7 linked regions of the Homo sapiens genome follow. The protein of the gene in region 4 interacts with the protein of the main gene of each other region in a biochemical or structural test. Each region holds a gene or a part of one and is shown on either strand. Other genes may lie near its edges.

Region 1 (3,975 bases), on a different chromosome or scaffold from region 4:
CAGTGTGGATTTTTCAAGATGGCATAGTACTCTATTGCATAAATATGCTGTAATTTATTCAACAAATTTTCTATGCTTAAACATTTAGGTTATTTCATTTTTTCTATCAAATATGTTATGATAAAAATCTTTTGAAAGTTTTAAAATTTATTCTTTAAGATGATAGGCATAGAATTGTTGGGTGAGAAAATATGAAACTTACTAAGGCTTTTGGATGTATCTCCCTAAATGACTTCCAGAAAAGGCTATGCCAATGTATATTCCCTCCAGCAAAGTATAACAATTCCTGTCTCCTTGTGTCATCAAACATGGGCATTATCAATTTTTAAAATCTGTGCCAATTTGGAAGGCAAAAATACCATAGTTGTTTTAATATGCATTTCTTGTCTTGGCTTACATTTGTTTAATTCCTTTAATAGTAGGTCAACATTATAAACAGGGTTGTACTAGAATGTGTGCCATACAGTGAATTAGAAAAATACACAAAAGATTACTGGACATCTTATACAAGTGAAATCATTTATTTATCTATTCATTTTCATTTATTCCATTTATTGAGTGCTTTTCTATACTGTGGATAGTTCTGAGTACTGGTGAAATAAAAGCAAAAACACACAGTCCCTGCTCTCAAGGAGCTCACAGTTAAGAAAACAGATATGTAAGTATGCTACTGTAATATGGTGTTATCAGCACTCTAATAAAAGTATATACAAGGTTAGTAGTGTCTCCATGATGGGTAAGGAAAGGGTGTTTCTTTAAAAATAATCAGACCCAGAATAAGGGGGGAAACCCTCCATGTCTACAGGATGCAGTAGAGATCTTGGGCATTCCAGAGACAAAGAAAGGTGCTGCAACTTCTGGACATAAAGAAGTTCCAATAAATCCAATCTTACATCATAAAGACTAAGCTTACCATCACCAATTCATACATTGGAAGTTCAAGAACCAGATTTCCCTTATTCAGTTGGTGGTCTGTCATCTTTTTTCCAATTATTTTGTAACATTGGACTAGTCAACATACCATCTTATGACCAAATTTAAAACAAATTACTGGTTAAGGAAAAAAATGACTCATTAGTAAGTAAAGTGACAAGCAGAACAAATGAACCATCCATCCTTCAGGAAACTTTTTTAAAAAAAGATTTTCTGCATGGTTTATCTTGTGGTTTGCTTCTTCTGACAAGGCAGCAACCTTAGAAATGATATCAGCATGAAAAGTTCATGACTTATTCACCTGTGACATAACTTTGGAGTCTCATGGGAGTTCCAAAGTTTTTCTCCTGATCATGAGATTTGGTGGCTTCACATATTTACTTCCCCCCCCCCCCCGCCACCCCTGTGTTAACAGGTTTACTGGCAGATGCAGGAGGTGACATTCCAGTGGCTCCATTATTTTCATTAGTCAATATCATTTATTCTTTGTCATTAAACAAATATTTGGAACCCACTACATTCAAAGCATAGCATTAGGTTTTACTTAGCATTTTACAAACACTTTTAAGTACAATATCAATATGCACATCAATCTTACCTCTACCTCACAGAAGAGGAAAAAGGGAGCTCAAGTTATCTTCTCAAGGTCACATAGTCACTAAGAAGCAAAGGACTCTGAACACAGATCTCTGAACTCCAAACCCAGGGCTCTTTCCAGCCTTCCTTACTAGTCTCCCTGTCCTCAGATTTTCCTGCTGCCTAATTAATGTTCTTAAAACACCAAAGTAGCCCCAGCCTTCATCGCGTCTCATCTGCTCTGAAAATCCACTTTGACTATTTCAGTCCACAGAACTCACTCTCCTCTGAACTCCTATAGCTTATTGTCATATTATTCAACTGGCACTAACTCAGAAAATGCTTAGTGAGATCTGTCTTTAATTATGAAATAATTTTAGTGTCTATTTAGAAGACACTGTGCCCGGTTATGTGAGACTGCTCCAGTACTACTTAAACGTAAGTTTTATTCAGTTCTGCAAATGCTTTTGACAACCTACCATGAGTCAGGCACCATGCTGAGAGCTGAAGACATGGTTTCTGCCCTCAAGAATCTCAGTCTAATGGGAATGTGGATATGTAAACGTTTTACAGACATATGTGTACAATTGGTCATTCATTCATTAATTCAGTAAGCAAACTCAATTTGCAGGCCATGAGAGATAAGTAAAATACGGTCCATTTCTTTTAAGTAACTTGCAGTCTAGGATCAAAGAGAGACGTGAATTTTTTCATTCATTAAATACCTATTATGTGGTGGAAACAAGTGAGGAACACCTATGAATAACATGGTCTCTGTTCACAGAGCTGTTTCCTTTTTAAGGATCATAATCTTCAAAGGTAGAAACTAACAACTACACTGTTTTATCCTGTGTAATAAGAGGGCATAGCAAAGCCTGGGCCTATGGATATTTATTGGATATTGATTCATTCCTTCATTCTTGTATCTACTCCAAGTCTCTCTTGGTAGTTCTTACATATCATCCTTTTTTAGACCAGCTCTAGATAATGAATCTAAGATAGAATTATCATAAACCTTATAGTTCTAGTGTAAGTATTTCCAAAGATACTTGGAATATTTTTCATGTTATTCCAAACACCAACCACTTCTTGGCTTTTTATAGAGAGAATAAAATAGAAATTCCTAAATAGAAATTCAGTTTTCTCACTCTATTACTTTGTTCACATGTTTGATGTCAAGGTGCAAATGTGCAAGTAGTGGTTTTTAAAACCTGCTATTCAGAGAGCAAGGAGTTCCTTTGAGGTTTTTCAGAAATAATACTAGCAGCGAGGAAGACAGGGAGCTTCCCACTTAACCAGAGTATTTTAGCTTTCTGTTTTAAATACTGTGCTTCTAGGTAAAACTTATTTTGCAATAGGGTCCTGCTACTTAATTAAAAAAAAACTGATTTAAGAGACTCAATGTAATAAGACATCATAGAATTTTGGCTTTTTATTTTTTAATATTTCTCTTTTTTAAAAATAGAGTCCTTCCTATGAAGTCAAACCAATCCACTTTTAAAGACAGCCATAGTAGCTATGTTACTGAGCATTTATTACTTGGTGCCAACTACACTGTAAATTGATCATTTAGTCATATTTAGCATCCATTTAATGAACCATTTCACTATACTGCCTACAAAGAAAGCAAGTAATACAAATCAGTGTGCATCATTGACATTACAGATTAATTTCCTAAGAGATTTGCATTTCTAAATATGTCTATGTAGACAGAAGAAATAAGACCTGGTGTTCGATATATCAGTAGGATGACTGATCTATTAACACTAAACTATTGTACATTTCAAAATAGCTAAAGAGAATTCGAATGTTCCTAGTGTAAAGAAAACATAAATATTTAAGGTGATGGATATCCCAATTATCTTCATTTAATTATATGAATATATCATACTATCACATGTACCCCCCAAATAAATACATTATGTATCAATGAATTTTAATTATATGAATATATCATACTATCACATGTACCCCCAAATAAATACATCATGTATCAATGAATTTTAATTATATGAATATATCATATTATCACATGTACCCCCCAAATAAATACATCTATTATGTATCAATGAAAAAAATGTATCTGAGTGGTTCAATTTTTCCATTTGACTCTACTATATATAACACTTATTGAACACAAGTCCATCCTATGAGGTTCAATTGATGTTTTTCCAGATAGCAAAGAGTAACTAATATTTACTGCCTGTATTTCATTTCATCCTCAAAATAATGCTATTAGATAAGGACTATTATTATCCTCATGTTACAGACAAGGAAATGAAAGAACTAGCACACAGAAATAGGTACCCTAAAAGGACTAGGGGTGCAAGAGGACCATGTATGGGAAAACTTTCCAGGTGAAAAGCAGGAAAAAGAACCTCATTCCAGAAGGTTCCATTTCATGTCAAACTTCTCAAACTGACGTAAGCCAGATAGAGAGAACCTCCCAATTTCCACATCTATGTC
Region 2 (3,500 bases), on a different chromosome or scaffold from region 4:
TTTAAAAAATAAAGTTCCAAATACTTTACTCATAAATATATTTAAGAAACAACTAGAATTAGTTGAGATTCAGTGGAAGCTGAATGTAAGCTAGAGTCTTCTTGCTAAGTTTTCCTAAAAACTTATAATTGATCAATATGTTCAAGAATATCACTTTAAAAATTCTTGCTTTTCCCAATTTTACCTGCTTTGAAAAACAAACTTTTAACTACTTCTGCTTTTAATTCCCAAATCTTCCAAAATATTTTATTTTTCCATAAATTAAAATGCTATGTCAACTGAGTGTGAAAACCTTGATTCTGTAGCTCAGCTTTAGCTTATTATTATGGATAAAATGTATACAGTGTTAACAGTTATGTAACTGACTCTGGCTTTTATTCCCATAGAAACTGAAAATGAATTACTAAAAGTGGTATATACTGATAAAAGAGTGCTTAAATTAAAACATCCCATATTTGGTAATCTGGCATCAGTTTCCAGAGATGTAAGAATAAAGTGACAGCTTGGCAGCTAAGCTGTTAGAAATTTTTTTATAGGTTTCAGCTTAGGCCTGCCAGCTATATTTCTAGTTGCTAATAATTCTGGCTCTATATTGAGTAAAATTCTTCCTTAGAAGAACCAAAGAAAACTATGAATAAATATCTTATTGGTTTTTATAATTACATGTATATAGTTTAAAGTACCGAGTAAACTGTAGATACATCTGCTGAAAATTACTATTATAAATACTAGCACATTCCATAGTTAGGGGAAAAAAGTTGACCATAAAGACTTATAATACTGAGAAAAAAATAGCATTTTAACAGAACGTAGAGGTTATTTTCACTAGCATCAAGTATCAAGAAGATAAGCATTTGGTAAAATAATTCTTTTTCATGTAAATACTAGAGAAACAAATTTTTTGGTAAATTATATGTTGTTGACAAAAGACCATATCAAATCCACCATAGAGAGTATATTAAAAGTACTGCATTATTTGAGGGAAATAATCAAGAATATAAGCAAAGTGAAACTAATACTGATATTTTCATAATCACTTTAATATAGACATAAAACCAAATAAATCTAGAAAGATATTTTGGTCTCTAATAATCTATAAAATAATATTTAAGTCAGGCACATTAAACTATGTCAAAACACTATCTTTTGGTACTTGTACTTTTAAAACAATTGTTTTATATAAATTGAAGATTCCTGCTATTTGTTAAAATTCATGCAAGTAAGACATAATTAATTTTTGTGTTTAAGTTACATAACCATATATTACATGTCATTTTGATCATTTATTCCAACAAGAAGTTGATGTGATTTAGTATCTTTCAAAATAGCCAGTAAAGAAATTTTCACTATCAAAAATCATTAGATGAACCACAGCATACTTATCCTCACCAGACTGATGATGTGTGTGGTGTCCAGATGCCTCAACAGACTGCCTTTGTTCACTGTCTGGAGAAGATAGCAAAGGAGTAGAATGAGGGCTTTCTGTGGGAGATGATGTCGAATGAGCCTGAGCTGACATTGTAGAGGATGTAGAAGGCTGAAGAAATTGTTCAGCTGGAGTATCTACTTCCATTGCAGTTTCACTCACTTCCAAATCAGGACTTGATGGGACCGTAGGAAGAGTTGAAATATCTGATTGACTTGTTCCACCTTCAAAACACATGTTAAGGCAAATTCAAATTTTAAATATTTTCTAAAACCAACAACTCTAAACAGATATGCTCAGAAAACACATTTATATTTACACACACAAATATATAATTTCAGTGATAATAACTACTGGTGATTTGGCCCATTTGACAAAATAGGCCAGTCAAGAGGGATAAAAACTTATCTACAACATATTCTTGTTAAAGCAATCAATCTTTCCTATTACATAAAACTTGTTTATACACAGAATTTTATATATTTCCATTCTCAGAGTGCATTAAAAAAAGGCTTAAAATAGGAAACCTCAGATTCTTCTACTTTACTTTGAGAAAAGCAAAAGATACGCACTAGGTCCAATGGCACCAGAAGGGACAAATTATATCCAATATCTTTTATTCTCTACTACTTCACACCACACAATAAGAACCTTGTGATTATTACAGATGTAAAACATGGTATAATTTACATGATAGAAATAAAAACTGGCTTCAATAAGTAGTTTTTGCCAGCTTTCTGATGACTTTAATTAACATTAAAAATTACCTCTGGGTCGAGATCTTCCTCGTCCTCTATTGCTTTGTGCAACCTCACTTGCTTCTTCAAACCATCTTGATAACATATCAGACATTCTCTGCATCAATGACACATTGGGACTCTGCTCTCCTATTACAATATAGGTCTTATCAGTGAGTTTAGTAATAAGTCAGAATCTTTCATTAATACAAAAACCTAGATTTGAAGGGCTTTAAAATGAAAGCATATTTTTAAAAATCAAATTTCCTAAATAAATTGTATGAATGTATATAAATCTATTAGAGCTCTCATCACATTTTATAGTAATTGTTTATATCAGTGACTTTCCATGTGTATGGTAAGGTTTCTTGAGAACAGGGCTCACCTCTCCTTCATCTTTGCCTATTCTTAGGTACCACTAAACCTCCCACTTCCTACCTCAACCTAAATTTTTAGTTCTAAGAGTACCCAGCCAAGAAAGGCTCATGAATTCTAAGTTTAATAGATTAAAAGAAAGGTTTTCCCTCTCCCTAAAGCATTATAATCAAGTACAGACACAAAATAGCCTTATGCTTTTGCATGAAGTTTCCTTAAAGTCAATTTATTTTCAACATCATTTACTGTAAGCAAATTTCAGATATTTGAAATTAACTGGAACCAGAAAGTATTTTGTCTCTTCCCTCACTCCTTTTCCTCCTGCAAGTAAACAAGTTTTTCCAAGGGTATTTTCAAATTAAAAGTGTAATGTCAAATTCAAAATGTGACAACTCTATTCTATAGTCTTATAATTTAAAATGAAAATCGGTTCTTCTTACATTTTCTGTGAAATCAGAGTTTCTTTTACACTTTATTGCCTTTATATAATGTAGCTCATATATTGGGGAATATGCTTTTGATCACAAGAGATGTTTCAGAAGTCATTATAGTAAGATTTTGGTTACAGACCAATTTAATAAAACATAATAATATAGAATTATAATTCATAGATTAATTCTATTTTCAAGTGTGCTATCTTAAAGCTCCCAGGGTTGATTCTTATGCTTATCAAAGGCACTTGATAGAAAACATTTTATGTGCTAATATAAAACCCTTGGGCTGAGTTTTCATTTCTCTTAATATCTAATAGAAAGGCAAAAACTGCAAAGTCTGACAATACCCAACGTACTATGGGGTAATGGGCATTCTTATACTTTCAGTGGGAATGTAAATTAGCACATCTTTTTTGGAGACTAATCTGATAACAACTACCAAAATTAAAAGGTACTTATCCAGTGACTGCGCCATTCCACTTCTAAGAATTTATCCTAAGATATATTTGCATAAGTATACCTATATGT
Region 3 (3,500 bases), on a different chromosome or scaffold from region 4:
TACATACAAACTTATACTTCTGCATGTATATACTACCTGAAATTTGCTTTTAGCTGTGTAAGTACATAGTTCAAATCAACTTCCAACCTAGACTTGATTATTAAGGGAGTCATTTAATTTTCTCTTTTCTCAGTATCCACCTTTCCACAGTACCGAAGAGTGCTATACATAGTCTGTGCTTAATACATTTCACAATAATTTTCTTAAAGTGTTATTCTTTATGTAGATTTAAAACAGCATGAAGTTGTCAAGACATCCTAGTAACTCAGAATTTTTGAGATGAGACCAGGTATACTAAGTAGGCTTCTGTAAAGGAAAGGTAACCAAATATGTTTTTCACATTTATGGCATAAATGCATTGCTCCTAGTGGCAAGGAGCAATGAGATTCTCCTTACCACATTCTCTTAAATAGCTCTTGCTGCCTCTATCTCCAATTAGGACCTTACAGAAAGATGACTAGGAATTTATATGTGCAAGGGGAATGAGTTAATGGTAATTCAGTGGAACTCTTTTTTAAAATGTTAGTAATAGTTTTAAAAGGCCTGAGTTGCCTCAAGTGATACTTTAATACTAATTTTTTTTCAAATGCATTTATGAGTAGAAAGAGACCTAACTAGAGCAATACAACAGCCATAGTGATTCTGACAAGAAAGCTCTGGAATTTGAATCCAGCTACTAGTGCTAGGGGCGGGGGGGGCGGGGCAGGGAGTTAAAATGAACAGACTGCTACCTATGGCACTTCCTGCTGAGCAATCTGTCAGGACCTCTCTATATGTTCCCACCAAGAACCACCAATTTAGGGTACTTGCTGCAAAACAGAAACAGACTACAAAAACATTTAGAAGTTTCCTTTTAACCTTCTAAAAACAAGGCCTTTATTTGATCTACCACAATCAAAAAGTGCTCCCCTCTTGGGTTAGTTGATCTCAGAGTTTACCTCGTCACAATTATAAGACTGATCTTCAGATAAGCCAGTTAGTGCTGCTCCCCTAAAAACTGTTCCTCAATTACAGGCTACACCTCCTAACCCAAACTAGCTACACTGTAAATACACAAACTCATCACCAATTAGCACAGAAACAACTGAGAGAACATGTGCATCAGTTAGTCACAACACCTGCTAACATGCAGGTCCTCACACTGTTGCTATTATTTCTGGGGAAAAATAATACACCACCAAGCAAACAGAGCTTGATGCTGGAGGACATACAATCCTATCCAGTTACTCTCAGGCACAGACTATTACAGCACATGCAGAATATTCAGAAAACAAAAGAAAACAAAACAAAAAATGTCTACTTACCTTAATCTTAGTACTAGACTGATTGGGATCTTGGTTTCTTGTGAACCTGATCCTGAAGACAAAGCCTAAAAAGCATTGAAAGGTATACAGTCATTGCCTGAAACATTAAGTGGGGAGGTGACTAATGGTCACTGGCAGAGGAATCATTTACTTGGCAGCAATTTTCTTCATCTCCAGCTGAGGTCATACTAATCCCCAGGACATTCCCTGCTGGAGGAGGACATGCACTCCAAGGCAGCAACAAAAGCTGAATGTCAGTTTAAGTCCAACACAATGAGAAAGAAAACTCTCAAGCCCAGATGAAATTTCACATATAGCCACATTTACATTTTATATTTCTGAGACCCCTGTTCCCCTCTACAAGACTGAAAAACACAAAGCTAGGTTTCTCATTTTTAAAAAATCTGCCAGTGCACCATATGGCAGTACAAAAGGTAGACCCTGAACCAGCTGCCCTTCAGAAATCCATCCAACCCATACATAGGTTCCAGTCTTTTTATGGCTAAACTAATCCTCTCTGAAAATTGTACAGCGCTTGCTTATGGGAGGACATGCATTCGATTTAAGTTGTTTATAAAATGAATCTAATTTTTCCATCAATTTTCCTAAGACAACTGTATCTTTTCCCATATGCCAAGCAGAAATGGAAAGCTTGAGGGATGCAAAGTTAAATGAAGTAAGTGCCATGACTAATTGGAAATGCTCAAAGCAGTGATCTCCAAAGGCAGAACACGAGATGATCTACTGGGGTGCAAAAGAAAAAAAAAAAAATCAGACCTTTAATTTATATTTCTTTTCATCTAAAACGTTAGACAAGAAAATGGAACTTCTAATATTTAATAAATGGACGTTGAAAGTCTTACTTTAACCATGTACCATAGGGCCACATGTTGTATGCAGTGTCTGAGGTTTATTGAAGGGAGAGAAGGAGTTACACAGCATGTAGCAGCCCACTACGGGGCCTTCATTCACTTGGCTGCTCTCAATGAAGTATGATTTAATAAAGTTTGTGTGCACCTGGATAAATGATTTACAGATTATAATACCCGGACTTAACAAACCAACCCTCACAAAATTGACAAATAACTTAAAAAGAGTAATAGAGAAAAACCACAGAAAACAAAGAGTATTAATAAAAAGTATAAGCCTGAGTGAACAACAACAACAAAAACAGTACAGCCATCGATTCTCCTAGTCTCTGTTGAACTTCATGAGCTGCATTCTGAAGTTAAATGTAATTATCTAATACAAAGCTGACAAGAAATTAGCCCAAAATTTTTGATGTTTGAAATATTTCCATCATTAACTTATTCTGTTGCTTAAAAACCTGCATGTGATCCTTGTAAAATTCTCTTACCTGTACATGCTTAAAAATGTGAAGACAGAATTTCTAACTTGTTTCAAAATCTACCAAGACATTAACCTGATTACATTAGGTTATATTCCACGTTAATATCTGCTCTTTTCATCTATCCAAAGGAGTGACCATGAAACCATATCCCCGGCTTTACCTGAGCTGTTTTTGCTGGCTCTGCGGTGGGTGGGAGAGAGACTTGAGTTGGCTGTGTAGCAATCTGCCCAGCTGGCTGAGGTAGATGAGCAGAGATCTGTTCTGGAACTTGGAGCAAAGTACCCACAGGATCAGTTGTTGGAAAGAGCTGTAACAAAAACACACACAGTGTTGCTTAAGTTGTGTGGAAAGGGAGGCAGGTCTGCTGACAGCAAGTTCAGCCTTTCAGGGTGATATTTTCAAAGTAGTTTTTGGGTAGTGTACAGGTTTTGTGTCTACTCCGAATATATCTATTCCAAACGGAAGTCAAATATTTCTAGGCTTTTAAACTTTTAACAACTCTGTGAGGTATAATTTATATTTCTCTACATTTACCCACTGTAACTGTACAATTTGGCGATTTTTGTACCATATATAGAATTGTGCAACCATCACCACAATCGTTTTAGAACACTTCCATCACCCCCAAAAAGTCCTCTCATGCCTATAGTTAGTTCCTGCTTCCACACCCAGCCATAGGCAACAACTGATCCTAATTTCTATAAATTTGCTTTTCTGGATATTTCATATAAATGGAATCATATAATATATAGTCTTTTGTGTCTGTCTTCAGTTTGCATTATATTTATCTTTAACAAAATCTATTCCATTCCTTTGCCCAGCAAAACAGCACCTCCAAAATACAG
Region 4 (3,500 bases):
AACAGGAGACTTGCTCCAGCTGGTGGGAGGAAGGGGCAGTGAACCTGATGGTGCTTTTGGAGCTTCCCAGGGCCCTGAGGACGGCACCTCACCTCTGCAGGGAAGGGGGCAAATGTGGGCTGATGGACAGTGGCACTTCCACCAGACTCTTAAGTGTTCGACTATTTAGTGCATCTCAACTTTATTCCCTTGATGGAATGGGAGGCTCAAACTGCACAACATGGAATCTGGGGACTTTCCCTCCAAAGCACGTGTGGCCGGTCCTGTCCCTGAGAGGCCAGGCGTCATCAGAGTTCAGTATTTCCTGGGTTGATAAATACATGTAAAAAACGTTTCATAATACTTTCCCGGCTTATCCTGCATCCCACACGTGGCAGGACAGTAAATCTCAGTTCTGAAAACAACGCGGGTTGACAGGCCTGGGCTGACTTTCATAAGCAACAGCAACAGTAGACTATTACCGTGGTGGAAAACGCGGTGTAGGCTGTAAACGCTGAGTAAGTTAGTTATTGTTATCATTTCCTTAAAATCTTGTGATGTAACCTTGACCGCTACTACTATGAGAAAAGTGTTCAGCTTTCCATGTCCCATCTACCTCTTCCCTTCCTGAAAATATGAACAAGCGCGCACCATCCCTGGGAAGGAGAGTTTTAGGGCTCTATCATTTCTGCAGTGGCAATGAGCAACACCTGGAATAAAGAGCTTCACATTTGCCAGTTTTTCTACATTCAGTGTATACACAAAGCACCATGAATAATGCAGGTCAAATGATATGACTGAACATAGAATTAAACATGCTTTGTCAATTGTTTAGCAAATACTACAAATTTAATTATGCTAATGTTACATTTACCTTTACTGGAAATTTCAGCTGATTATATAATTCAGAAACTAGAAGATTATGACCAAGAGTCTTTCTCATCTTCATTATTCTGACGATAGCAGCATCAATCTGATATTGTCTATCCTGAAACACTCTCTCAGTGGTGCTAACCTGTTCCTCAACCTGTATAAAAAAGAAAAAAAAAGTTAAGTGTAAAACTGTATTTTCTTTTTATTTTTTGCGATGGAGTCTCACTCAGTTGCCTGGGCTAGAGTGCAATGGTGTGATCTCGGCTCACTGCAACCTCCGCCTCCCAGGATCAAGCGATTCTCTTGCCTCAGCCTCCCGAGTAGCTGGGATCACAGGCACCTGCTGTCATGCCCGGCTACTTTTTGTATTTTTGTACAGGCAGGGTTTCACTATGTTGGCCAGGCTGGTTTTGAACTCCTGACCTCAGATGATCCGCCCACCTTGGCCTCCCAAAGTGCTGGGATTACAGGTGTGAGCTACCACACCTGGCCTATATTTCAATATTAATGACCTGATGTTACCGAATTTGATGGGAAATGGTTTTTTTTTTTTTTTTGAGACGGAGTCTCACTCTGTCACCCAGGCTGGAGTGCAGTGGCGCGATCTCGGCTCACTACAAGCTCCGCCCCCCGGGTTCACGCCATTCTCCTGTCTCAGCCTCTCAAGTAGCTGGGACTACGGTGCCCCCCCACCATGCCCGGCTCATTTTTGTATTTTTAGTAGAGACAGGGTTTCACCATGTTAGCCAGGCTGGTCTCGATCTCCTGACCTCGTGATCCACCTGGCTCGGCCTCCCAAAGTGCTGGGATTACAGGCGTGAGCCACCGTGCCTGGCCGGAAATGTTCTTTTGATGCAAAGAAAGGTCAGACATTGGATGAATCCTACTTTATTATGCATGTTTACTTGTTGTAGTAAAAGGTACCTTCCCAGAATAGCAAAACTCCAAAACCAAAACTTAAAAAATATTTTTAAAAGTTATTTTCCTTATAAGAAAGCTGCAACAACTCTATGTGTGATGTAGATTAAAACTAGCAGCACAGTAAACAAAACATAATGACCATCAGGATATATTCCAGAAATGTTAAGTGTTGATCAACATTAGGAAATCTGTGAATATAAGTGAGAGCACTGTAGCAGTTGAAAGGTTAGATTACATGACCATCTTGATAGATGCTGAAAAGGCATGATAAAATTGATTTTTTGATTTAAAACAAACATTAGCATACAAGGATGAATAAAAAAGCATCTGAACATGATAAAACATGGTTATCAGAAACAAACAGCAAATACTAGAGACAACTTAACCTTAGTCCAACAGGAACCTGATGGGGATCTGCAGTTGAAATGAGGGCTGGGGGAAGGTCTGTGCATACATATGAGGCAAGTATGCTTCAGGATGGGAGAGACTCCAAGCTTTCATCACATTTTCAACAGGATCCATGACCCCCAAAAAGTTAACATCCTCTGAACTAGAGATAAAATTAGGAAGCTCAGCTGCACTGCTATTCCTTAAAAACATTACTTTAGAGGTTCTAACTATGCAATACAGGAACAGACTAAAGAGGTATATTGAAAAGGTGCAGACAAAACGATCATTATTTGTAGATGAGCTGGAAAATCCAAGAAAATCAACAGAAAAACTTTCAAAGCTAAAGAGTTTTGTAAAGTGGCTGGAAATAAAATAAATATACAAAGACAAATAGCATTAATACATACATTCTGATAAAAACCGTCAGAAATGTAAAGAAAAAAGGTCCCCTTTATAAGATATCAGCATTTCATTAGCCTGTCTTGCTTAAAACTCTAGTGGTTTTCCAAATGCTTCATGGATCTGAGCCATCTTCAGAGGGTCCAGCTGTGGCTCCCTGATCAGGCCTGTCTGGCTCAGCTTCCCCTTTTGGCAACGATGCTGCAGCCAGAGGCCTTCTTTCAGTTCCTGAGCAAAGCTAGTCACTTCTTCAGGAAAGCGTTGGCTGACGACAGTATTTAATTAGACTCTCCTGCACTTCTCTATCCTAACATTTTCCTCCACTCTTACAAGTTAGTCAATGTGTGTGATCCTCTGCTACCTCTCTGCTGGAAAAGACTGAACACTCCTAGAAACAAGGACTTATTCTTTATTGTTAATGGATGAATTCTCAGTGCTTCACAGAGGACCTGGGCCACCACAGATGCTCAATAAGTATTTGTTGAATGAATGAAAATTTATGACTAGCAAGAAATATGCAAGACTTACAGAAGAAAACTAGAAAGCTCTGAGAAAAAGATTTGTATGTATTTACATATATACACATATGTATGAATCACAAGATTTAATATGATAAAGATAAAAGCTCTGTAAATTAATGCAATATGGATTAAAAATGTCAATGTTCTTATTTGGGGGAGCAAAGGCGTGATACAATTATTGTCAAGTTCATTGGAAGAATAAAGTTATAGGAATAGCTACATTAATTAAAAGAACCTGGTGCCGGGCACGGTGGCTCACGGCTGTAATCCCAGCACTTTGGGGGGTCAAGGTAGGAAGACTGCTTGAGCCCAGGAGTTCAAGACCAGCCTGGGTAACATGGCAAGGCCTCATCTCTACAAAAAATACAAAAATTTAGCTGGGCGTGGTGGCATATGCCTGGGGCTGAGGTGGGAGGA
Region 5 (2,767 bases), on a different chromosome or scaffold from region 4:
GGCAATATCAGTGAGAGGTGATTCAGAAGAGGCATCTGGGGCAGAGGAGGAGGTGGGGACAGTGGCGGCAGCAGCCACAGCTGGGAAGGAGATGGACAGTAATGAGAAAACTACTCAACAGTCTTCTTTGCCACCACCACCACCACCTGACAGCCTGGATCAGCCTCAGCCAATGGAGCAGGGAAGCAGTGGTGTTTTAGGAGGCAAGGAAGAGGGGGGCAAACCGGAGAGAAGCTCAAGTCCGGCATCAGCACTCACCCCAGAAGGGGAAGCCACCAGCGTGACCTTGGTAGAGGAGCTGAGCCTGCAGGAGGCAATGAGAAAGGAGCCAGGAGAGAGCAGCAGCAGAAAGGCCTGCGAAGTGTGTGGCCAGGCCTTTCCCTCCCAGGCAGCTCTGGAGGAGCATCAGAAGACCCACCCCAAGGAGGGGCCGCTCTTCACTTGTGTTTTCTGCAGGCAGGGCTTTCTTGAGCGGGCTACCCTCAAGAAGCATATGCTCCTGGCACACCACCAGGTACAGCCCTTTGCCCCCCATGGCCCTCAGAATATTGCTGCTCTTTCTCTAGTCCCTGGCTGTTCGCCTTCCATCACCTCCACAGGGCTCTCCCCCTTTCCCCGAAAAGATGACCCCACGATCCCATGAGCCTGTTTTTCTGTACCTGCTGCTCTTTGTCCCACAGAGCAGAAACAGCTTCACAAAAGGACCTCCCAGAGTTATGAGCCCTGATTTTGTCTTTTTCTCTAAGTTCTTAACATGTTATGTCCCTAGTGGCTTTTCTGTAGTCCCTGAGCTTGGAAATTACTGTGCTTACAAGGGGATGGCCCCCTAAGGAATTTTTCTTCCCTCCTCATTCTTTGTACCTGAGGAACATAGATTCTCTGCAGCTTTCTCAAGGGGAACCCTCTCCAGCTTCCCTGGTGTGACCCTTCTTCCCCCTCCTCTCTCCTCTCCCTTTCCCTTTGGTAGGTGCACCTGAGCACCTACATTTGGCATTGCAGCCTAGCCAAAAAGGGCTGGCAGCTGTCTCTGGAGGGCCCAGTGCCACTCCTCTGGGGTGACCTTTCTGCTCAGCTGGTGGGTATGGGTCCCCTATCTTTCTAGAACCAGTATGTGGCATTCCTGTCAAATGGCCTGCCCATGAAGCCCTGGAATTCCAGCTCCACCTCCACTACCACTCCAAGCCTGGCCCCACCAGTGCTGTTTGGCCTAGGAACTGTGGCTGGGAAGGTGCCTCCAACAATGGGATCCAGGGAAGCCAAGGAGAAGACAGCCCCCCTCCTATTTCAGCCTCCTGCACCCAAGGCAGTGCCTGAGAAGCCCATCATAGACAAGAAGTAGCAAACTGTACATTCCTTCTTCCTCCCCCTGCTCCAGAAGGTGCCGGTACTGAAGATGCTCCAGTAATTGGTGACCCAACCCTAGGAAGTAGGGAGAAATGAAGGAAGGGCATAGGAAAATTTTCCCAGTAAATCCCCTGATGGTCACATTAAGGTAAAGGTTTTGGCTGGTCAGTGTGCCAAGACCTCTCCAGCTTCTCATTCATGATGACCTCTCAAAGTTGGGAAACAAGCTGATTTCTTGCCAAGAGGTCTCCCAGGAGATATTTGGGAAATGTGAAGTTCGTATCTTTAAGGAGCATTTTTGGTCAGCATGGTTGATGAACTAATGATGAGAGAGTTAAGGAATGTTGCTAGAACATAGGGCTTGCTGGTACCTATGTGACTAAGAAAGGGACATGATGTAAGGGAAAAGGCCTCAAATTCTTGTGAATGTCTGGACATTCTCGTTAATATTCTTTTGGGCTAATAGTGACATAGTGTGCAGAGGTGTACCAGGGATCATGGGGGATTTCCTAGCACTAGTATGCTTCTAGTTTTAGATAACTCCCTCCTTTATTCCCTGGCCCCTTGTATTTTCCTTATCTTCCTCTTTCAAGACCCCTACCCATTTTGCCTATCCGTAGGCTGGGGCTTGTGTCTTTGTCATTGTCTGGTTCTTAAGAGTCCCAGACTTTGGGAGACCAGCTCCAGGTGGCGTCCTCCCTGCCTCTCCGTCTTGTAATGAGTTGTAGTATTTACTCTTAACATAGGATCATTTGGAACAGGAGTTCTGAGGAGGAGAGAGTGAGGGTTTTGCTATTGACTGACTTGAACGATGGCTTCTCCTCAAGCTGTAGGCTCCAGAGCTTCCTAACCTAGTAAAATGTCAAGAACAGACGGGAGATATTAGTGTCTTTCCCTCTATCATTAAAGGTGTTTTAACCAAATATTTATGTGTTTCTCCTTATTTCATGATTACATAGCCAGCTGGGGTGTGATATGGGCATTCCCCAAAATTGAGATTCCCTTCCCACCTACATCTCCTGCCAAAGCTGAACATATGGTGTTGAAATATTTACTTTATTCAGCCTTGTCCTAAGACAACCTTCAGTTAATGTAACTTCTCTGTGGAAATTGTTCCCTGTGGAGTTTGTATTTCCAAAAGGTAGGCATTTGCCCACTGTGTCCAGTCATTGTCTAGATTTTCTCTACCTAGAACCTTCCACCACCAGGCTTTTCTGTGGGTTTTGTTTGGAGGTTGGAAACTGTTTCTTTTCCGTCTTTCTCAAACCACAGATCAGCCTTCTGACATCAGCGAATCTGTAGAACCAAGGTGAATTAAACTTTATGATCCTTGAGATCTGATGTCATAATCAGAAAGAAAAAAATGTAATTCAACCCTAATAATTTCTACCAACAAGACAAAGGAGGATTCTTATCATTAGGA
Region 6 (3,017 bases), on a different chromosome or scaffold from region 4:
ACTTCCCTTCATAGCTGTCCTTTTAAAATAGCCAGACTTGTTAGGTCCACATACATTGCATCTGATTCCTCCCTTCCTAGTGACCCTACAACCCACTCCAATCTGACTCCCCACAACCACTACCCCCACTTCTAATCTGCTTGAACTACTCCTGTCAGGGTCACTAGCACCTTTTGTAGTGCCAAATCCAGTAGGTGGGTCTGTGTTCTTACTGTGTCTCAGAAGCATTTGACGCAGTGGGCCTCTTTCTCCTTGAAGCGTTCTGTTCCCTTGGCTTCCATGCCACTGTGCACTCTGGCAGTTCTGCTTGGTGTTCTCTACTGCCTGTGCTGCCTCCCTCGGCTCCTTGATGTTGGACTTCCTTGACATCCTTTTCCTTTCTACCCCCTCCCTAGGTGGTCTCATCTCCTCCGTGGCTCTAAATCCCACTCATACATTGACAGCTCTCAAATATCTGTATACCTGGATCTCTCCTCTGACCCCAGATACCTATATCTAACTGCCTTTCTACCTGAAGGCTCTTGGTTATGTTAAACTTAACACACCCAAAACTGAACTTCTGGTTACTCCCCTCCAGCCCCTTCATCCTCAGCTTCCCCATTTCAGTAAATGGCACAACTACCCACCCAGTTGTTCAAACCACAAGCCTGGGAGACCCCCGTCTCCAATACAAATGCAGGTCCAGATAATTCTACTTCCAAACTGCATCCTTAATCACTCCATTTTCACCATCTCTGCTCCCACTAGCCTAGTCCAAGCTACCAGCAGCTCTCGAGCAACTGTGAGAGCCTCCTAATCAGCTGCCACTCCACTTCCACTCTGTCCCTTTCTACTTCTTTCCTTACACAGCAGCTGGAATGACCTTCCACATCTCTATCCTGCATAAAACTCTTCCCTGGCTTCTTATTACAGTAGGATTAAATTCCATCTCCTCATGTTGGCATTTCAAGACCCAGCTACTAAATTTTTGATCCCAGTTCTTTTCCATGATCTCTCTAATTGGTTACTTTTCATAACCACTTGTTCTTGGGTCATGGATTTCATATCTCTGTTACCTCTCTGAGTTCATTAACCATTTTTCTCTCAAAGTTTCTATTTCTTTTCTCTATTAACTCAATTTCCTCTGGTATTGGCTATTTTGTTTGTTGAGTTTGGTTCCTTTCTTTCATGGTATTGGCCTTCTTAAATTGTTGGGTGATCTTTAGTTGTGTTCATCTTCAAATTTTCTGTGAATGCTATGTCTTGTTTATTTTTTTATTTTATTTTATTTATTTATATATTTTTGTTTGAGACACAGTCTCATTCTTGTTGCCCAGGCTAGAGTACAGTGGTGCGAGCTTGGCTCACTGCAACCTCCATCTCCTGGGTTCAAGCAATTCTCCTGCCTCAGCCTCCCAAGTAGCTGGGATTACAGGTGCCTGCCACCATGCCCGGCTAATTTTTGTATTTTTAGTAGAGATGGGTTTCTCCATGTTCATCAGGCTGGTCTCGAACTCCTGACCTCAGGTGATTGACCCACCTTGGCCTCCCAAAGTGCTGGGATTACAGGCGTGAGCCACCGCACCCAGCCCTATGTCTGTTTATTAAAGACTGCCTCCAGTGACTGGATTGCCAACTGGTGGTGGGGAGGGAGGGAGGTGTCAGTAGTTTTTCTCCTGGGCATGGGTCTTCCCAGTTTTAAATGTTATCAGTCTTCTGGACACTGCCCTGTTTCATTGGCCTGTGTTCTCTAGCCTCACCCAGGGATGGTCTCCTCTGCTGGCTGCCTGGCACAGGCCATCTCTGGATTGTCTCACCTACCCTACTTGCTCTTGCAGCTCTTCTAACACTTCGTGATTAGTTTATTGTATTAAATGCCTTCTATCGAACTTGGTGTAGAGTCTCTTTGCTTGGCTGGATCCTGAATAACATTTCTGAAACAATTTTATCCGTCAACATGTTATTTTTGTATTTTGTTTGTTCAACTTATCAGATGTTCACTCATCTTGATCCTTGGTTGTAATTATGGAGCAACTGTGCTGTTTTTTCTTTAACTTTATTTTCACTAACTTATTTTCTAATATTTCTTTTGTTCTATCTTGTTTTGGTTTACTTTAATAACTCTGTAATACTTAATTTGACTGCTTGGCTCAGATACCTTTTAGTGTTCTTGTTTTCTAATAGGAACACTTTAAGGCTATGCATTTTCCTCTAGTACTATTTTGGCTGTATCTCATAAGTTTTGGGATATGGGCTTTTTATTGTTATTCATTTCCAAATAGTCTAATTTCAATTAAGTTTCCTCTTCAACACAGGTTAGTTAGAAGAAACTGGTTTTTGATTCATGAGTTTTTAATTTCCAATTAGAGAATTTGGCTTTTTTGATTCCTACTTTTGGGAATGTTTTTAAAATTATTTTCTTTTTTGTTCTTGTTGGAACCAGGATTTGAGCCAAAGGCTCTGTCTCCACAGCCCAGGTGCCTGACACTGACACTGAGTTAGGCCACACCTTACACAGGTCTCAGCTTGGCCACTAATGAGGGCTGGCCAACCATCTTCACCTCGCTGGGCCTCAGGATGATCAAGACAAGGGAATTGTACTAGTCTCTCAGATTCTTTCCAGCTGTAAAAAACAAACCAACAAAAAATCTAAAACCAAAATAACTGAGCTTCCAATCTAGGTGGGAAAGATCTAAGACTTGTACAAAGTCCTGCAAAGCCCAGAGGAGGGCGGTCACCCATCTGTTTGGAAGGATCAGGATTCGGGAAAGACTTCATGGAAGAGTTAGCATTTAAAATCAACTGCAGAGGATCATTCACTCATTCATTTAACAAATGTTTATTTAGCACCTATCTGCTATTTTCTAATTGCTGAAGATAGCAGCAAAATTACTATATATCAGGTTGGTGCAAAAGTATTGTGGTTTTTGCCATAACTGCAATGACTTTTGCAGCAACCTAATAAAACAGACAAAAATCCCTGCTCTGTGGAGGGTAGGCACATAGATATAGTCTAGCAATTTGACAGCTTACCTGAC
Region 7 (3,500 bases), on a different chromosome or scaffold from region 4:
GATGCCTTGACCTCTGCTGTTACACTTAGTTCCTTTACCAGCCTTTTGAGGCCTGTGGTATTCTCATTTTACAGATGAAGAGACAGGGACACAGATTAACGACCCACGCAAAGTCATACGCTAGTGAGCCTAGGCAGGTCCTGCTCATCCTTTAGATGCCACTTTGGCCGCTTCTCCATTATGTACACACAGCACCATGACTCCCTTGGAGGTATTCATCACCGTGGGAACCTTTGCTCTTACTTTCATGATTGGATCCTGCTTCTGGCACTTGGTGGTGAGCTCCATGAGGGCAGGGGCAGTGTGTGCTGGGCTCACCTTTGTGTGCTTGTCACATAAGAAGCCACTCACCTTTTGTCAAGCAACTGATTATAAGAAGTAGAGCTGGGATTCAAACTCGGTTCCCTCTGTTACAAATAATCTGTATAAAATTATCTAAGATACTCTAAGATTGATTACATTCTATCCTTGCCTATCTAGTAGGTAGAGTAAGAAGAGGTCATTAGAAGTCATTGGGAAAATCAGGAATTAACTTGTTCATGTATCCATCCTTTTGTCATTTCTTTGGTTCTGTTTATTTTTCCCCCCAGTATCAATTGAGAATCTCTGACGGGAACAGCACTGATAGACTTGGAACCTAGAAAATGTGTCTGGTCAGGGATAGAAGAAGACAGCATTGTGCCACAGACTTGATTGTGAAGGCATGATCTGTTCTTTCACTAATTCTCAGTTTCATTTTGACCCTTCAGCAAATTCACAACCAAAATCAAGGTAGGGGAAGGGATGGCACACAGAGGAAAGTGCAGAAATATCATTTATATACCATGTATTCACTCTGAGTGGCCTAACTTTTTTGTTTTGTTTTTAACCCAATACATGTGTATTTTTAATTCCTCTGAAATTTGTGTTTTCTTAAGGATTTTTAGGTCTGTATTCATTCATAAAATAGATCTGTTCAAATGACCTTTTTCTATTCTTATTAGCACCACCAAATCAGTGTGTTTTTAATACTTAGATTCGCAAAATTTCTGGACATTTGGCAAAAGGCACAAGGCTGTCATGGAGCAGTTGCATGTCTTAGCAGTGAAAGGGACCAGGAGGTGGGAGGTGACGCTGGCAAGGCTTGTGCAGTGCCTCTACCGGCCTCTCTCTGGACCTCCCCTGCTTATCTCACACTTGACTGGGCCCTGCACTGCAGGGTGGGTAAAGGATAGAATTGCAAGCAGAAATTGTATTTGCTTTTGTTTAGTGAAGCCAAAAGCCTTAATATTATTTTTTGAGCTCAATGCAAATGGCAACTGACATGAGAGAGATTTTAAGAGCACCATAAGCATCTTTATAATCATGGGGGTGGAGGGCAATCCGGGAAGAGGGTGTGGGTGGGTGGGTGGCTGTGTGTACACATGCACTCTTTTTAAAGTTGTATTGTGTCTCTAACCTCTCCAAAAAAGACCAGAACCAATTAGAAAAAGGAAAAGGCCAACTTGACGCACAAAATTCTATATGCATGCCAAATATTGGAGTGAAAAACATGTAGCATTTGACTGAAAAGACACCAACCAACCATTAGATTTCTATGGTTGAACACTCTCAAGATCTTGCACTCCTGTATTTCATTTAAAAAATTACTCCCTGAAGTGCAAACTGACTTCAATTTTGAATAAAATTTAGCATTCAAATTTATAGCCACTTTGAAAACTGAGGGTTTATTTATATCATATGAACTTGAACAGATACTTAATTACAGCAACCCAGCAGCCCTTTGCACATGGAGAATCTGGATTTGGGAAAAAAAAAAACAAAAAAAAAAACTTCCCACGTAGGTTTTTCCACATTTTTCAGATGCTTTTGTAGCAGCCATCATTTATGGGAAATGGCATTAAAATCCTGCCGTAATGTAGTTTAAGTTTAAATTCAGTGCTTCCCAGAAGAGATTTTAGTGTATCCTATAAAGGCACTAAAAGGCTTATTTTTGTTTTTGTTTGTTTTTGTGGGGGGTGTTTTGTTCTCTTGAAAGTCTGGTTCTAATGAGAGAGATGTTGGTTCCTTGGAATGATCTTTGTGTGTTAACAACCTGTGCAAAGAACTCCTCTCTTGCTTGTTCTAGCGGGCAAAAGTCATCTTTGTTTGCGTGCAAGAAAAGGTCTGATTGAACTAGGGTGAGCCTTTCATTTTAAGCAGAGTTAAAGTCTGGGGTGTTTTTAATGTTTTAATCTCTGTTTAAGAGGTTTCTGTTATGAGAGGAAAATTGATAACATTTTTACCTCAGCAAACTGCCAGCAAACTGGCTCTGCTCTAATCCCACATTTATAGTGATTTATATTCTCCGTGGCAATGTGCTGTAACCTCAGAGTGATACCACTGCGGTGTAGATTGACTGCATTCCAAATGCTGGAATCACATACATAATGTTTTTACTTTTAAATAATATTCAGACACCAGAATAAATACCATATGTGCACTGATGCTGGTTACAATGGAACCTTGTCATTTCTTGTGAGGGAGAACATTCTTTGTTTCTGATTCCTGTTTGAAATAAGTATGCAAAAGATAAATATGTACATTGACAGCATTTTGAGAAGGCTCTGGTAGTTACACAGCTGAGGATGTAGCTATGATTCCTTGAAATGTATCATTTAAAACTAAAAATATTGCTGCATGTTGCCCCCATCCCTCACTACCATACATGAAGGCAAGGATTGTTATCTGACATTCCCAGAGTAGGGTAGAGCTTTTATATTTTATATCTACAGCAGGCTGTAGTAAGAGGACATCTGTTGAAGAAAAATTACCTCCGTGAGTACTGTTCATAGGAACAGTGAGACTAACATGCTGATGACATTGTAACAGGGAGAGTAACACACTTGATCATGGGAAAGGATGGATTGATTGGAAAGCCGTAATTCAGTGTGAGCCCTAATGTCATCTGATGCTACAAAAGCAGAATTTAGGTGGCCTAACATCATCAAAATACAGATAATTAATCTCTCCAGATCAATTTTCCCACATGATAAAAGTTAAGATTTAAACTTTTAATAAAGTTTAGAAACACCTCCCGAGTTATACATTTTTAGATTTTTGTTTTTATTCATCTTGATTGGAATTCAAATCCACTTAAACAGTATTTTTTAAATCAATTTGGTAGAATACCTTTCATATTTGTACATCTATACAAACTCCAACAAGTCGATCCACATTTGCTTCTTGGGGAAGCATTTTAATCCACGTTTGCATGATTACTATTTGTTTAGCTATATTGAATTAGTGCCCATAACATTTTAATAATATTTAGTAGATGATGAAACCCTGGGCATTGATACTGATGGCTTCCCAACCCCTCTGCACCTCTGTCCCCACCCAGTTTTGTGAGGTTTGCTCAGAATATATAGTGTGAGATGAATGTGTGAGTAATCCATCACAATTTATCTCTGACATTTCATCTGGCACATAGCTTGGTGGGGTAAGCCTTGCCTCCTTTGTAGAAGTGTTCCCTGTTATAA

What was found.
Region 1: the proteins of CUL4A (region 4) and DCUN1D5 form a complex in vitro, tested with the Homo sapiens proteins (one study listed by BioGRID).
Region 2: the proteins of CUL4A (region 4) and DCAF6 form a complex in vitro, tested with the Homo sapiens proteins (one study listed by BioGRID).
Region 3: the proteins of CUL4A (region 4) and OXSR1 interact in a test that uses a peptide from one of them, tested with the Homo sapiens proteins (one study listed by BioGRID).
Region 5: the proteins of CUL4A (region 4) and SALL2 form a complex in vitro, tested with the Homo sapiens proteins (one study listed by BioGRID).
Region 6: of the proteins of CUL4A (region 4) and CENPA, one has a biochemical effect on the other in vitro, tested with the Homo sapiens proteins (one study listed by BioGRID).
Region 7: of the proteins of CUL4A (region 4) and ST7, one has a biochemical effect on the other in vitro, tested with the Homo sapiens proteins (one study listed by BioGRID).

The regions. Positions count from the first base shown.
Region 1 is NC_000011.10:103,050,186-103,054,160, forward strand, and holds the end of DCUN1D5 (DCN1-like protein 5), read right to left. Parts: 3' UTR 501-3,975; downstream 1-500. UniProt on the Homo sapiens protein: Contributes to the neddylation of all cullins by transferring NEDD8 from N-terminally acetylated NEDD8-conjugating E2s enzyme to different cullin C-terminal domain-RBX complexes which is necessary for the activation of cullin-RING E3 ubiquitin ligases (CRLs).
Region 2 is NC_000001.11:168,002,683-168,006,182, reverse strand, and holds part of DCAF6 (DDB1- and CUL4-associated factor 6), read right to left. Parts: intron 2,314-3,500; coding exon 2,194-2,313; intron 1,651-2,193; coding exon 1,390-1,650; intron 1-1,389. UniProt on the Homo sapiens protein: Ligand-dependent coactivator of nuclear receptors. Enhance transcriptional activity of the nuclear receptors NR3C1 and AR. May function as a substrate receptor for CUL4-DDB1 E3 ubiquitin-protein ligase complex.
Region 3 is NC_000003.12:38,245,537-38,249,036, reverse strand, and holds part of OXSR1 (serine/threonine-protein kinase OSR1), read right to left. Parts: intron 2,963-3,500; coding exon 2,816-2,962; intron 1,370-2,815; coding exon 1,305-1,369; intron 1-1,304. UniProt on the Homo sapiens protein: Effector serine/threonine-protein kinase component of the WNK-SPAK/OSR1 kinase cascade, which is involved in various processes, such as ion transport, response to hypertonic stress and blood pressure.
Region 4 is NC_000013.11:113,258,113-113,261,612, reverse strand, and holds part of CUL4A (cullin-4A), read right to left. Parts: intron 1,007-3,500; coding exon 854-1,006; intron 1-853. UniProt on the Homo sapiens protein: Core component of multiple cullin-RING-based E3 ubiquitin-protein ligase complexes which mediate the ubiquitination of target proteins. As a scaffold protein may contribute to catalysis through positioning of the substrate and the ubiquitin-conjugating enzyme.
Region 5 is NC_000014.9:21,520,580-21,523,346, reverse strand, and holds the end of SALL2 (sal-like protein 2), read left to right. Parts: coding exon 1-643; 3' UTR 644-1,102; coding exon of another isoform or gene 1,103-1,339; 3' UTR 1,340-2,267; downstream 2,268-2,767. UniProt on the Homo sapiens protein: Probable transcription factor that plays a role in eye development before, during, and after optic fissure closure.
Region 6 is NC_000002.12:26,789,056-26,792,072, forward strand, and holds part of CENPA (histone H3-like centromeric protein A), read left to right. Parts: intron 1-3,017. UniProt on the Homo sapiens protein: Histone H3-like nucleosomal protein that is specifically found in centromeric nucleosomes. Replaces conventional H3 in the nucleosome core of centromeric chromatin that serves as an assembly site for the inner kinetochore.
Region 7 is NC_000007.14:117,215,501-117,219,000, forward strand, and holds part of ST7 (suppressor of tumorigenicity 7 protein), read left to right. Parts: intron 1-3,500. UniProt on the Homo sapiens protein: May act as a tumor suppressor.